Homo sapiens: one gene and its partners. The protein of the gene in region 1 purifies or fractionates together with the protein of each later gene. This does not show direct contact. Each region holds a gene or a part of one and is shown on either strand. Other genes may lie near its edges.

Region 1 (3,747 bases):
ATCTGTGAGTGACCATCTGCATCTGTGTCTGGCATCAACCCAACACAGACAAGCAGAAAATGCTGGGATTCCCCGTAGCAAACAGCAGTTTTCTGCTTTGCACGCTGCGGCACCGTGTTGGATTTTTTTGCGATGGGCATCAATGACTTTATAACTAAAACCTTTCAGGCGTTGTCCCCCTGGCTGCAGCAATGGGACAGCACAATGGCAGAGGCCCTGGCCCTTTCCACAGTGCTGGCAGGTCAGTGGGGGGGCCCAAGCAAGATCACGCTGGGCCTTCACGAGCCAGGGACGGCAAGAGCCCAGTGTGGGCCTCGGGGAGCCTGGAGAAGGCGGCCACACAGGAGCAGAAGGGGCCCCGAGTATGGCAGGGGCGGGAGAGAAGGGTGGGCCGGGCTGCCCATGCCGGGAGACTGCTGCCTGCATGTGGGGAGGATGGGGAAGTACAGGGCCGGGCACATCCAGGCAGGATGCTGCAGGGGTGAGGCCACTGACACAGAGGGCCCAATGCAAGGGTCAGGAGGGTGCTCTCAGCTCAAACAGGCTCGTGACCAGCATAAGGCCCAGGGGGATGACCCACGGAGGGAGGGAGATAGGGCTCGGAGGCCACCCTGGAGGGGAAGCCCAGGAAGGGGTACTGAGCTGGGGCCAAAGTCCTCCCAGCGGGCAGGAAAGAGGGGGCAGGTCCAGGGAGCAGGACCCTGTGAGCACACAGGGTCAGTGTCTGAGTGTGTCAGTGTGTGTGGTCTGAGTATGTGGTGGGAGTGTGTCAATGTGTGGGTGTCTCCATGTGTGAGCGTGTGTCCATGTGTGAACGTGTCCATGTGTAAACGTGTGGTGTGTCCATGTGTGAACGTGTGGTGTGTGTCCATGTGTGAGCATGTGTTGTGTGTCCGTGTGGTGTGTGTCCATCTGAGCGTGTAGCATGTCCATGTGTGCTGTGTCCATGTGTAAGCATGTGGTGTGTTCATGTGAGTGTGGTGTATCCATCTGTGAGTGTGTGGTGTGTCCATGTGAGTGTGTGGTGTGTCTGTGTGGTGTGTGTCCATGTGTAAGCATATGGTGCATTCATGTGAGTGTGGTGGGTGTCTGTGAACATGTGGTGTGTCCCTGTGAGTGTGTGTGTGTCCGTGTGTAGTGTGTGTCCATGGGTAAGCATGTAGTGTGTTCATGTGAGTGTGGTGGGTGTCCGTGTGTGTGGTGTGTGTCCATGTGTAAGTATGTGATGCATTCATGTGAGTGTAGTGGGTGTCCATCTGTGAGCATGTGGTGTGTGTTCGTGTGTGGTGTGTCTGTGTGGTGTATCCATCTGTGAGCGTGTGGTGTGTTCATGTGAGTGTGCATTGTGTGTCCGTGTGTGTGTGGTGCGTCCATGTGTAGTGGGTGTCCATGTGTGATATATCCATGTGTGAACATGGTGTGTGTCCGTGTGTGTGGTGTGTTCATGTGCGATATATCCATGTGTGAGTGTGGTGTGTTTGTCCATGTGTGCACGTGTGGTATGTGTTCATGAGTGTGTGGTGAGTGTCCATCTGTGCGCATGTGGTGTGTTCATGAGTGTGTGTGTGTCCATGTGTGAGCGTGTGGTGTGTGTGTGGTGTGAGTGCCTGGTGTGAGTGTAAGCTGAGGATGAACTCACACAGGTGCAAGCTCCCGCTCCTGCCTGGATGGGGTCTCAGCAGCCCGGGGCCTAGAGGGTGGGGTTGGGAGCAGGGCAAGGCTGTGAGCCCAGCAGGCTTCAGAGAGGAGCGTGGAGGGCCTGGGGGAGCAGCAAGACGGCACAGGAAGGGACGCCCGAGGTCCCAGGGAGAGGCAAGTGGGGACCCTGGTCAGCTCCAGGTGGCTGGCGGGGCCAGCAGTGGCACAGCCGCTGGGGCGCAGCAGGAAGGTGGGAGCACCCAGCGAAGCGCGGGGCTTGATCCTGGCGCCTGCCCGCCCCCGGCTTCCCACCCTTCTGGAACTCACGTGGCGATGGGCACGAGGAACTGGTAGGAGCCGCGGAACAGCACGAAGGCCGCATAGCACAGCCAGATGCTGCTCGGGTGGCGCGTGTGCGCCAGAAGGAAGACCAGCCCCGCCTGCGTGGCCGTGACGCCCGCGATGAGCAGCTTGGACCAGCGCGCCCAGCGGATCTTCACGAAGCCCGCGGCGAAGGACGTGATGGCGCCTGAGAGGGGAGGGATGGGGCGTTGCAGCGGCCCTGGGGGGCCACGGGGCAGGGGGAGGTAGCGGGAGCTTCTGAGGAAAGGTATCCACGGGGCAGGGGGCGGGGACGGGGAGCCTCCGGGGAAGGATCCACGGGGCAGGGGGAGGTGGCAGGGAGCCTCCGGGGGAAGGATCCACGGGGCAGGGGGCGGGGAGGGGGAGCCTCCGGGGGAAGGATCCACGGGGCAGGGGGCGGGGAGGGGGAGCCTCCGGGGGAAGGATCCACGGGGCAGGGGGAGGTGGCGGAGAGCCTCTGGGGGAAGGTATCCATGGGGCAGGGGGCGGGAGAGGGAGCCTCCGGGGGAAGGATCCACGGGGCAGGCGGAGGTGGACGGGAAGCCTCTGCGGGAAGAAGCCTCGGGGACCAGGGCATGCGTACCCAGCAGCGTGGAGGCAGCATCTGCCGCGCCGTTGTAGACCCGCGCACTGTTGGTGGTGGGGTCCACCTCGTTCCACAGGATGTGCACGTAGTAGACCACCAGGTAGTAGCCGGCCGAGTTGAAGACCCACCAGAGGGACCACAGGCGCAGCTGCGGCCGCCGCAGGCTGTCCCCCAGCTCCCGCAGCATCCGCGCCAGCACTGAGTCCCCACAGGCCACCCGCAGGGCGTGTCCCAGCTTCCCGCCTGGGCCAGGATTCATGCGCTCCAGCTCCGAAGCCGAGGTTTCGCACCGCCCCCGGTCGTCGCGGTTGAAGAAGAGGCTGCGCTTGGGGCGCTTCAGGAAGAGGGCGAGGACCACGCTGAAGGTGAGGAAGGCCAGCGAGATGTAGTTGAGCGTGGAGAAGGAGACTCGGCCCACAGTGACCAGCAGCTGGCCCAGCACGGAGCTGGTGAACACGCCCAGCAGCACCGCAGCGCGCGAGTAGCCGGCCACACGCTGGTAGCGCGCGGGCCGCACGAGAGAGAAGATGTAGGAGGAATAGGCGATGCGCGCGGCCATGGTGACGCTGTAGAAGAGCTCCATGAGCTGCATGTGCGCCACCGAGTGGCCCAGCAGCAGCAGCAGCCACACCGACACGAAGCTGAGCCCCTGCAGCAGCAGCACCGGCGTGTAGCGCAGGTAGTCGGTGAGCAGGAACACGGGCACCAGCACGGCCAGGTAGGAGTACGACAGCACCGGCGTGATCTCGTTCGTGACCTGCGGACAGGCGGGCGTGCGCCCCACCAGGTGTTAGCAATGCTGCCGCTGCGGCAGACACAGCCCGCCCGAGGTGATGGCTGCTGACGGCTTCCTGCCCCAACACTGCCTGGTGGGACCCCTCTCCCCAACACGCCCCTGTCCCATGTCCCACTGCATCGTCCTCTCTGAACAGGGACCTCTGGCTCCCGACCGTCCCGGCAGCCTGGGAGCGTTCGCCTGCGGAAAGCTGGCAGTGGCCACAGAAGGAATCGTTATTAACAAGCCTGTTCATCTAAGCTTCTCTATTTTTATCTCTTTCTTGGGACAGAGTCTTGCTCTGTCGCCCAGGCTGGAGTGCAGTGGCACGATCTTAGCTCATTGCAACCTCCACCTCCCAGGTTCAAGCAGTTCTCCTGCCTCA
Region 2 (3,747 bases), on another chromosome or scaffold:
AGGCATGCCACAAGCCAGACCCATCCTGGGGCTTTTCCTTTTTGTGAATTATCTTTATTTCTGTGGCTAAGCCACTAGATTGTTTTTTCTGCCACTTGCACTGGAAGCATCCTGGCTGATACTACAAGAGCCCCTGAGCCCCAGCCCTGGCTGGGCCCCGCCCTCAGCAGGAGTGGGCTGCACTCACGTCAGGCTTGAACGGCGGCTCCAGCATGCCAGCTCCCAGCCGCTTGAAGTTCAGCTTCTTAAAGAGGGGGTGCTCCTTCACCTCGCGGGCACTGCCCCCACGACACCCCAGGCGTTCGGCAGGGTCCTTGCAGAGGAGCTGTGGCAGGGGTGAGTCGGCCAGGCAGGCCAGGCAGGTGAGTGGGTGGGAGGGAGGGAAAGGTGCATCCACCCCAGCCCTGGCTGGCCAGGCTTCTGTGAGCTGCCGTACCTGTGAGCAAAGTGAGCGGGCCTGCGGGGAAAAGCGCTCGGAATACTCCTCGGGGACCTCCTTCACCAGCCGCTCCACCTCCTCCCGCTTGATCTTCTTCTTCCTCTGCTGGAAGGGCGACTGGCCTGCGATCATCTCGTACAGGAGGCAGCCGAGCGCCCACCAGTCAGGGCTGAACGTGTACCGTTCATTCTTCACCACCTCCGGAGCTGGGCGGGCGGCATGGGAGTTAGGGCTGGGCAGGAGGCGGGCAGTGGACCCTCAGGCCCCAGGAACGCCAGTGCACGTTAGGTCTGGGATACACTCACACCCGCTGGCCAGGGGGGACCTTGGCCAGTAGGAGAGCACAGGCCCCATCAAGCGGGGTGAATACGGCCCTGCAGGAGGCCGCGCCCAGGGTCCCCGGGTCTTCAGATTTTACACAAGAAGTCAGAAATCTGTATTTTGTATGTGAAACCATCTGGCTTACTAAAAACAGTTTGACTTAAACACAAATGTAGGCCAAATTGGGCCCATGTGGCTACCATTTTGCAACTTCTGGATTTAATATCAGCGAGAAGAAGGAAACTCCTATTTTCTGAATACCTCCTACCTGCCAGGGCAGCCCTGTGGGGAGTTTTCCCTGAACTCTCCCTTTTCATCTTCCAGGCAGCCCTGGGAGGCAGGTATGATGAGTGTTTTCCAGTGGAGCAGAGTGAGGCCGGGAGCAGCGGAGTGTCTGGTTCAAGGCCACGCAACCGGCAAGAGGCGGAGCCTGCAGAGCCAGGACTCTGCCTCCTGCGTCTCTCGGTCTCCAGGTGGAATGTGGGGCCTCATGTTGGCCCCTCCACTGGCCTCCCTCACAGATGGGCACAGGGAGGGCAGGGACTGGGGCCACGGAAACAGGTTTGGGTCTCTCTCCTCCATCCCCCGGTAGCCACCTGCAGGCTCAGCCATAGCAGGGTTTAATAAGTATTCAGCAAATGAACGACATGGCTTCACAACTGTGTGCGGCCCCGGCTGAGTCTTGGTCTCCTAACCTCTAGAAGAGGAGCATCGGCATGGGCCCTTTCTACTGAGGCCCCTTTTGAGAGAAGACTCCCAGACAGAAGTGGGTGTGGCTGGGTGGGTGGATAGTGAGGGAACCCAGGAGGCTAGTGGGCCGGGCAGAGAAGACTCACCCATGTAACCCACGGTGCCCACACGCCCTTTGATGGTCTGGCCCTCGGGCACATGCACAGCTAGTCCCAGGTCAGAGATGCGGATGTGGCCTGAGTGTGGGTGGAGAAACAGGTGGACCCGTTAACAGGCCAGGCCTCTGCATCTCACCCCACCCTGACCCACCCCAGGCACCCTTACACACCGTGGTCATCCAGCAAGATGTTCTCGGGCTTCAGGTCCCTGTGCAGAGAGAAGAGCAGGGTCAGATGCTGCTCAGTTTGCCAGGGAGTCAGAAGGGGCCAGCCCCCCCAGCTCACTCGCCTCCGGGGGCCAGGTGTGGAGCAAGGTGCGAGACTCATTTGCTGCCAGGGCGACAGACAGCCCTGCTCTCCCTGGCAACAGCCCGGACTCAAGGGAGCAGAGGAAGGATCTAGAGCCAGGACTCCCAGGACTCTCTAGATGAGTGGAAGACAGCTCCACCCCGGAGGGGCCTCCCCAGTGGAGACCAAGGAGTCTCCACCCCTTGGTGACTGACTCTGCCTTTCCTCTCTATCAAATGGGACTACTCATCCGTCCCCTGACTAGGCTGTTGTGAGGTTCACAGGAAGTCGGCAACAATCAGAGCCAGGGTTCTCTCTTACCCAGCCCCATGTGCCAGGCACTCTGTACTTAGCTCACTGGGCCCCTCCAGTAGGAAGTTGGGCCTACTTCTAACAACCTGGGAAGTAGGAATTATAGTCTCTGCTTCCTAGAAAAGGAAGCAGTGTTGGGAGCAGGGAGCTCCTGGCCCAAGGTCACACGGTGGGGGGTGGAGGGGTGACAAAGTCAGGATACCCCGTGGGTCCAGCAGAGCCCAAAGCCTAGGTCTGGGCTACTCAGGTTGGCCTGGCGTGTGAGTTAAGCCGGTGCCACAGCCCCCAAACCAATGTCCTTCTGTAGTCTGGCCTGATCGGCAGCCTTGGCCACCCCCGTCCAGGCCCAGCTGCAGTCGCTGGCAGGGAAGGACTAAGCCCCTGGGGTGGCCGAGCCCTCCCCACCTGTACACGATGCGCTCCCGGTGCAGGTCCTCCAGGCCACAGCAGATCTCGGCGGCGTAGAAGACGGCCCGCGCTTCGGGGAAGCCAGCCTGGCCCATGTGGTAGATGTGGAACTTGAGGTCGCCCCCGTTCATCAGTGTCAGCACCAGGCACAGCGCGTCCTTGGTCTCATAGGCGTAGGCCAAGCTCACCTGTGGCCGAGGGGACCCGAGCCCTCAGGCAGGAGCTGCGGGGCGCTTGGCGGCAGGGCTGCCCAAAAAAGCCTTCTCGGTGCCACTCCTTGGGCCCAGCCTGCTCCCCAAGCCTGGTGTCAACACCCCAAACCCGCCCTTCCTGGCATCCCACATGGGAGGGTGGGGCCTGGGGGGTGGGGACGGTCGGTGCGCCAGTGTGGCCAAGGGGAAGGGAGAGTCTCCTTCTGTACTTACTACAAACCTACTGTTCACTTTCTCCAGGATCTGCTTCTCGTTCAGCGCCATGGCCTCCCCTTTCCGCTTCTTGATCCGCTTTTTCTCTAGCTTCTTGCAGGCATACATCTTACCTGTGGCCCGCACCTGGCAGGCGCACACCTGTGGCCAGACAGACAGGGGCGAATGGGGGCCAGCTGTGCCATTGCTGGGCATCCAGGGGGTGGTCCAGGTCCCAACACACCCACCCTATTCACTCTCCCAGGGGCTCTGGCCTGGCCACTCACCTCCCCAAAGCCACCTTTGCCCAGGACTCGGTATTGCCTGAAGGTGTTTTTGGTCACTGGCTGCCTGTGGCAAGGGGTGGGGAAGCAAACGCTGGCTGAGCAGGAGAGCCCAAGGCCTATGAAGAACCCCGGCGACCTGGCCTGTCCCGGCCCAGCCTTCAGGGAGCTCACCTTTCCAGCCACTTCCACTGCAGGAAACGGTTGAAGTAGATGCTGTCGAGGTAGTCGGCAAAAGGGGCCACGCTCAGGTACTCGTGGGTCAGCCTGTTGAGGAAAGGCAGGCCCAGCTCACCCGCCAGCCCCTGACACCTCAGGCTCTTGGCTTGCTGGGCCAGGCCTCCCGTTCTGTACAGGCTTAGCCCACAGGTATCGTCGTCGGCCAGTCCTCCTGCTAACCCCTGAGCGGGGAGACACACAGCCTGTGCTGAAGCTGTGGGTGC
Region 3 (3,747 bases), on another chromosome or scaffold:
CTGTAATCCCAGCACTTTGGGAGGCCAAGGTGGGTGGATCACTTGAGGCCAGGAGTTCAAGACCAGCCTGGCCAACATGGTGAAACCTCATCTTTACTAAAAATACAAAAATTAGCTGAGCGTAGTGGTGCATACCTGTAATCCCAGCTACTTGGGAGGCTGGGGCACAAGAACCGCCTGAACCCAGGAGGCAGAGGTTGCAGTGAGCCAAGATTGCACCACTGCATTCCAGCCTGGGTGACAAAGCAAGACTCTGTCTCCAAAAAAAAAAAAAAATTGCTGTAAAATATTTTCTGTCTCAAGTCTTTCATTTCTACTAGAATACAAAAAGAAATGACTGTTCTGAGAGCTAATCTTTGGGAACTGAAATTGTGATGGATCTCTGCTGTACTTACTGTCAGCAGCTTTCCAGAGATTTGCCTCTGGTACCAGTAGTTTTTTGACAATGTGTGTCTTGAGTGTTGATGAGATATCTTTTCCTCCCTAGACAACACTACAAACTGATGAAGTTAAAAATGTGCCTTGTGGAACAAGGTAAGCTTTCTCTTTGCCTACGAGCCTCCCTTTAGCTCAGACAGAGTTTCTGTTCCTACAGCTATGATCACTTAGACATATCTCAAATAGGCATGATAGTTAACCCAAGGGGACTTCTGATCTGAGCATTGTTTGAGCAAAGGCCTATCTCCAAATAGGAGCTTTTCCATCTTAAGAACCATTATTGTTCTTATGGTATTATTGGAAAAAACTGGAGTTTTAGAGCAAGTAGACCTAACTGTGTATTAGCACTGCTGCATCTGCTTTATTGACTATTTTTTAAAGACTTTATTTTTTACAGCAGTTTTAGGTTCATAGTGAAATTGACCAAAAAGTACAGACAGTTTTTATATACCTCTTTCCCCAACACATTCCTTTATTGACACTTTAAAGCTTAGTTTCCTCCTTTATAAAGGCAGTAAAATCTACCTTGCAGAGTTGTTGTAAGGATTAGAATTACTGTATATGAAGTGCCTAACCAGAACTTGGCCCAGAATAGGTGCTTAATAAAACATAGTTTAAAATTAATCATCCCACCGTCTTCTCATCTGTAGTGTTAAATGCCATCTAATTTAGAGTTTCTGATTCAATAGGTCTGGGGTGAGGCCCGAGAATTTGCATTTCTAACAAAAGTTCCTGGGTGATGCTGATACTGCTGGTCTGAAGACCTCACTTTGAGAATTGCTGTCCTAAAGAGGTTTAGGGAAAGAAAGGCAAGCAGGGCCCAAATTATTTCTAGGGTATAATCACTGCATTGAATTGTATCAAAAGAAGAATGTGAAGTTCAAGGTATTTTTTAAATTACTTATTTTAAATGACTATTACAAGTGTAAAAAAGACATTGACATCTATAGAGGGACAGAAATGCTATGAAAAAGGAAGCGAACTCTTTCTGTGTTTTAAGTGAATATTAGTATGTTTCATTATCAGCTTCTCCCCAGGTCTATCTATAACTGTGTTTTATGGATTGCCTTTAGTAGTTCACACTTTTTTTCTTTGTTTTTAGTGGTGGGGTCATGATCTATATTGACCGAATAGAAGTGGTTAATATGTTGGCTCCTTATGCAGGTATGTTACCCATCTACCTGTGGTTTTTATAGTTATAGCCAGAGGATTTATAGCTGAGAGATTCTTTGAGGAATAGAAGGGTACTTTGAAAGTTTTATGACTTCATTGATCACTGATTAATAAATTTCTGGGGAATAGAGGCAAAAATAGGTCAGAAGTTCTGGACAGAGTTGACTTTCTGCAACTGTATGAGTTACTCTTCTCTGAGCTTAGTGTTTCTAAGAGCAAAATGGTCATTGGTTATTTCTAGAATAGGAAAGTAGTATTTTATCCAGTCAGGATGAGAGATAATTTCCTTGGGTGTTAGAAATCTGTAACTGATCAATTCCTTGGCCCACACTGATTTGCCATCAAAGAGAAGTATTTTCTAGTTGAGATTTGCTATAATTTGCAAAGCAGTCTGAAAGCCTTCAACGTGGGGAAAGCATTTTCTTGATAAAAGATGAAAACCTACAGGTATGGGGTGGGTAGGTACTGTTGTAATCAAAAACTTAATTAGAAGCCCTGAAGAAAGATATACCGTCTTATATGCATGCTTGTTAATAAAACTGGCATGTCTAGTATGTACAGAATATTGTGTTTGGCAAGAATAATTTGAAAAGATGAAATTACAGCCTTTGCCTTCAGGGGTTTTAATTTTACTTGAGAAGACATAATACAGAGCTAAAAAAGGATATATTGGGATGTAAGGTCATAATAAATTTCACATAACCGGTACAGGCACAAATAGTGAAAAGATTTCAGAGTAGAGAGCAGGCGTATTACTGTCAAGGGCATTTGGATTATATTTTTCAGAGAGTAAGCATTTTCCTTGTCTTTTTTTCCTCTCCTTTCCTTGATTACAAATCACTGGAATGGATTATGATTGAAAAAGGGAAGGGACTGATGATTCTTTAACCAGAGATTAAATAGGAAACTATTTAGATATAATTCATTTGGGAAATGATCAAGCAAATGATTTAGTCATTAAGTATTTATTAATGGCCTGTCCATTAATTTTTTTTCTTTTTTGAGATGGAGTCTTGTTCTGTCACCCAGGCTGGAGTGCAGTGGCATGATCTCAGCTCAGTGCAACCTCTGCCTTTTGGGTTCATGCAATTCTCCTGCCTCAGCCTCCCTAGTAGCTGGGACTACAGGTGTATGCCTCCACACCAGGCTAATTTTTGTATTTTTAGTAGAGACAGTGTTTCACCATGTTGGCCAGGCTGGTCTTGAACTCCTGACTCAAATGATCCACCCACCTCAGCCTCCCAAAGTGCTGGGATTACAGGCATGAGCCACCGCGCCCAGTCGGATTTGAAATCCAGTTGCATCTAATATCCCACATGGGAAGGCCAGTGGAGCAAATTCTTGGATCTGAAGACAGAAGTAGAAAGCAGCATGTTTTTGTAGATAAAGAACAGGTTCTGACGTGGTCTAGTATGTACCTTTTGGGCATTTCTAAAATTCTCTGTTTCTTAGTTTCCTAATATGCAAATTTAGGAGAATTCAGTGCTAATTTATGTAAATTACCTGATATAAAGCCCAGCTCAGTTAATGTTTTAACAACTTTAAAAAATTGCCTTTTTAAAAACGGTCTTTTGCAACTGCTTTCTTCTTTTATTTCTACTGTTCCTCAGTTTGCCTAGTCTCTCTTTACCTCTTAGCTAAACTTTTGCAGTAATTGCCTTATGCTTTCCCTGCCTCTGATCTTTATGCTTCTCAGTTCATCTTCACACTGCTGGCCAAAGCGTAAATCTGACTGTCATGCCCTTGCTTGAAACCTTTGATAGTTCCTTATTACCTCCAAAATAATGGATACTTTAGTGTGGACTTTAAAGTTAGCCCCTGTTTGATGGGCTAACCAGCAGGTGTTTGGCATTAGTATTACAAATGCAAGGGTATTTGGAAAATTGAGCACAAGCAACACATCAAGATTTGTTAGTTGTGGTTTTTGGTTTCACTATTTTGTTGGCACTTTTCCTCATGTGTAATATATCACCCTGACTTTTACCCTGGCTGAATTTGAAGGTACCTGTGTCATTGTTGGGTAAAACAAACATGGGTTGTACCTCTCCTTCAGTGTTTGATATCGTGAGGAACTATACTGCAGATTATGACAAGACCTTAATCTTCAATAAAATCCACCATGAGCTGAACCAGTTC
Region 4 (3,641 bases), on another chromosome or scaffold:
TGGGGGGTGGGGAGTTGGGGTTGAACGGGGCCAGAGCTTCAGTTTGGGAAGATGAACAAGTTCTGCGGCTGGACGGTGGTGATGGCTGCACAGCACCGTGAATGTGCTTCTGCCCCTGGGCCGCACACTTACAAATGGTGAACGTGGTACATTTTATGTGATCTGTGTTCTACCACAATAAAAGAAGTGGGGAGCGTGCATGTGTGTCGGGGAGCCTCAAATTCCTGGGCCCAAGGGATCCTCCCGCCTCGGCTTCCCAAAGCGCTGGGATTACAGGACTGAGCCACCGCGCCGTGTACTAGAGGCCCTTTCAAGTCAAGACAGCCGCGGCTCCTGCAGCAGCTGGAGCCCCTCCCACTGGGGGCCTAACATCCCAGCATAAGTTCCTCTTCTGCATACACATCCGGCCAGGCTGCTGCACACCCAGGGGAAAGCCCCTCCTGCCCGGGGCTTCTCCAGCTCTGTTAAAGAGGCATGAAGGCACCTTTGTTTTGTTCTGCACAATAATTCACCAAATAATAAATCACACACGTTACCCAGACCAGGATGTAAGGAGCCTTTCATTTTTTTTTATACACAGAAATTTTGGTCTATTCTTTAAGTTAGGAAATTCAACTACAGACTTTAAATTATTACGTATCTGTGATCTTTCTCATTAAGTTTTTTTGTTCATCTTTATAACAGGCAGATAAAAATGTAAAACATATTTATGAACTGAACACAGTTGACCAAGCCATTCCAAGTAATATAATGCTTTATAAAGAGGGGCTTCCCAATGAGACAGGGCCCCCAGCCTTGAAGACTGCAAAAACAAGAGCAAAAGATTCCAGGTCATGGTACCCCGTTTCTGAACTCCACAGCACAGCACAAAGGTGACCTAGGGACTAAACAATAGACATTTACATTAGGCAACTTTATACAGCAGCAGTGAGGGTTTGCTTTTAATATCTATTGGCCATTGGTCCTATCGGTGTGTCTACGACAGAGAGTGAGAAGAAGCCGGTGAGTGCAGCAGCACGCAGCTCCAATTTCAACGTCTCAAATTTGATTTCTCATTGAAGAACACAAAGACCCTCAACAAATGGAGTTGCCCTTTTTCTTATTATCGTTTAAACAAGGACATCAGGGAACAGTTTACAAATGGGTGACATTCTCAATGTGCCCTTTAGAAAAAAGGGATGGCTTTGAGTTATCTGCAGCTGGCATTTTAAAGTGGGATTTTCTTTTCTAACCGAAATTCTTTTGCCCAAGATTTGACTGCTTCTGCTCAGGGGTGACATGGCATTCATGGGAATAGTGGGGATGACGCCTGCTCCTGTTTGGTTTTGTGTGGATGCCGGTGGAGGTGAGACAAGCCTTCTGAGGGTGCCAGTGCACGTTGGTGGTTTCCATTCCGATCCTCTGTCCCTCAGGTCCCAACTGTCTCCCAGTGGCTGAGCCCAAGGCCCAAACACCTCCCTGCAAAACGTGACACCTGCAAGTGTGGAAGGCAAGGGTCCCCCATGGCATCACTGTGTGGACCTAGGGGCTTCCTCAGGAGGGTGGCAAAAGTCGGGCCCCTCTTTATCCCCTTTGCTCATTTGGGGGAAACTGAGGCTTGGCCACCAGGTGCCCACACTGCCAGGATACGCTCCCCTCAGGACCTGGTGCTGAGCCACAAATCCATGACTTCATGGCTTAAGCTTGGCCGCTGGACACAAAGACTAGGGTGGGAAGAGTGCTTTGGTGGTGGCACCTCTGATGTCACAGCAGACATCAAGGTGGTCTACCGAGGACTCCTCGGCATTTGCCAAAGCAAACAGTGGGAGTCCATCCAGGTGCTGAGGGGACAGGGTCTGAACTGTGGCTGCGTCCCTGCCGTCATTCTCCCACCACCAGCTCCTCCGGGCTTCTGACGCTCCCTCTCCCTCCATTGGCTTCTTTTGAACTCTTGGCCCTGCCCCCGCCCCCTCGGACCTGTGCTCAGCTGAGGCTGCTCTCTGGACTCTGGGCAGGACCCACAACTCCAAGAGTGCTTCATGCTCTTGAAGGTGGGGGCATGGCCAGGATGAAGGATGTGGAATTGGAGTAGGAACCAAAGAAAGCTGAAAACGAAACTCCCCTTTCACTAACTGGAGGACTCCTTCTCATCAATATTTTGGTTTTTTCCTTTTAGATTAAAATTTCCCTTGAAAGGGTTTTCTCCTCTCTGGCAGGGGTCTCAGTGCAAATGCTCCAATTATACCTGCTCCAGACCTGGAGCGCCCCCTCTCGGCCTTCTCCTTGGGAATCTCAGTAGGGCCGGGCAGAGGGCAGGAGCGAAAGGTGGGGGCGGGGTGATGAGGGACAAAAATGGGTTGACCAGAAAGATATTCTTGCAGTCTAGTTCCCTGAAAAAAAAAAAAAAACAACTACAACCTTGCTACATTCAATAATGAAATTTCCAAATGAAAATGCCTGATAAGAGGAATGCAAATATCATGCCAGTAAATAGTTCCTTATTGAAATACGCATCTGGCCATATATACGTGTGTGTGTACAGATCCACACACATACACATATGTGCATGCACGCACACACATGCGCACTGCGGATGTGCCTAGTTTTTGCAGAGGGCGGGTTGCTTTGTGGCTGCAGGGCCGCTTGCAGGCGGCTCCCTCAGGTGGCACCCTTCACAGGCCTGCAGAGCACTCAACTTTTTTTTTTTTTTTGCATGAAGATGCTGATCTGATTGCCCCTGCATGGGTGCAACAAAAGCTCCCCATAAACCCAAACCAGCCCCCTGCCCACCACACAGCTCAAATGGCAAACACACGGTAAAACTGTAGTTTGTTAAAAAAGAAGCATCAATAGAAAAAAAGGTGGGGAACTCAGCTCTTCGCACTTTCTACTTCTTCTCCTTCCTCCTTTGGACGAAGAACCTTCTCCTCCCCCTTTTTGTCCTCCTCTTCCTCCTTTTCCTCCTCCCTGTCCTCGTCTTCCTCAGTCCGGATGAGGAGCCTGTGGCAGGCTGCACCCTTGTTGAATGGATTTGGGTCCTTGCAAATGCCCTGCCAGAAAGGTCTTCAGCCACCTTAGTTGTTCCCTCGTTTTGCAGGTGTGCAGGTCCCCATATGTGTGTGTGCGTGCATGTGTGCGTGTGACTTCGTGTGAGTCCGAGTGTGCGTGTGCGCATGTGCTGAGACAAGTTCTTGTTAGAGGGACGTCTCCACGCTGTGGAGCGGGCTCCCGGGACTGGAGGAAAACACTGAAGAGGTAGCTGACTTGGTGACATGCGTGGTCAGGTAGATGCCGCTGTCTATGGCGTTGTTGTTCTGGTTGGGGGACGGGGGCGGGGGGGCCCGGAGGCGCTCCTCGTTCTCGTCCACGTCCGTGTCGTCAATGAGCGGGATGTTGTGGGTGTAGTCATTGATCAGAAACTCGGGCGTGGCCATGAAGTTGTGAATGGAGGTCTTGGATTCTGGTTTCTCCAGGCCTTCATAGAGCGAGCTACGGAACGCTTTCACCACCCGGATCTGGAGTGGGAGGTGGAGGGACAGGGCGCGAGGTGGGAGCAGGGAGGGAGGAAAGGAAGGGAAAGGAAAGGAAACGTGGAAGGAAGGTAGGAAGGAAGGAAGGAGACAGTCAGTGGCCGGCTGGTGCTGGTAAATTCCACCCACGTC

Evidence for each region. The genes of interacting proteins can lie anywhere in the genome.
Region 2: the proteins of SLC19A1 (region 1) and GRK6 purify together in Homo sapiens (affinity purification with mass spectrometry; one large-scale study listed by BioGRID and IntAct). This does not show direct contact.
Region 3: the proteins of SLC19A1 (region 1) and ERLIN1 purify together in Homo sapiens (affinity purification with mass spectrometry; one large-scale study listed by BioGRID and IntAct). This does not show direct contact.
Region 4: the proteins of SLC19A1 (region 1) and ATP2B3 purify together in Homo sapiens (affinity purification with mass spectrometry; one large-scale study listed by BioGRID and IntAct). This does not show direct contact.

The regions. Positions count from the first base shown.
Region 1 is NC_000021.9:45,528,805-45,532,551, forward strand, and holds part of SLC19A1 (reduced folate transporter), read right to left. Parts: intron 3,345-3,747; coding exon 2,585-3,344; intron 2,168-2,584; coding exon 1,966-2,167; intron 1-1,965. UniProt on the Homo sapiens protein: Antiporter that mediates the import of reduced folates or a subset of cyclic dinucleotides, driven by the export of organic anions.
Region 2 is NC_000005.10:177,432,971-177,436,717, reverse strand, and holds part of GRK6 (G protein-coupled receptor kinase 6), read right to left. Parts: intron 3,572-3,747; coding exon 3,479-3,571; intron 3,372-3,478; coding exon 3,308-3,371; intron 3,183-3,307; coding exon 3,042-3,182; intron 2,805-3,041; coding exon 2,614-2,804; intron 1,817-2,613; coding exon 1,779-1,816; intron 1,687-1,778; coding exon 1,597-1,686; intron 646-1,596; coding exon 437-645; intron 326-436; coding exon 188-325; intron 1-187.
Region 3 is NC_000010.11:100,175,988-100,179,734, reverse strand, and holds part of ERLIN1 (erlin-1), read left to right. Parts: intron 1-487; coding exon 488-534; intron 535-1,540; coding exon 1,541-1,602; intron 1,603-3,664; coding exon 3,665-3,747. UniProt on the Homo sapiens protein: Component of the ERLIN1/ERLIN2 complex which mediates the endoplasmic reticulum-associated degradation (ERAD) of inositol 1,4,5-trisphosphate receptors (IP3Rs).
Region 4 is NC_000023.11:153,579,831-153,583,471, reverse strand, and holds the end of ATP2B3 (plasma membrane calcium-transporting ATPase 3), read right to left. Parts: intron 3,495-3,641; coding exon 3,174-3,494; 3' UTR 543-3,173; downstream 1-542. UniProt on the Homo sapiens protein: ATP-driven Ca(2+) ion pump involved in the maintenance of basal intracellular Ca(2+) levels at the presynaptic terminals. Uses ATP as an energy source to transport cytosolic Ca(2+) ions across the plasma membrane to the extracellular compartment.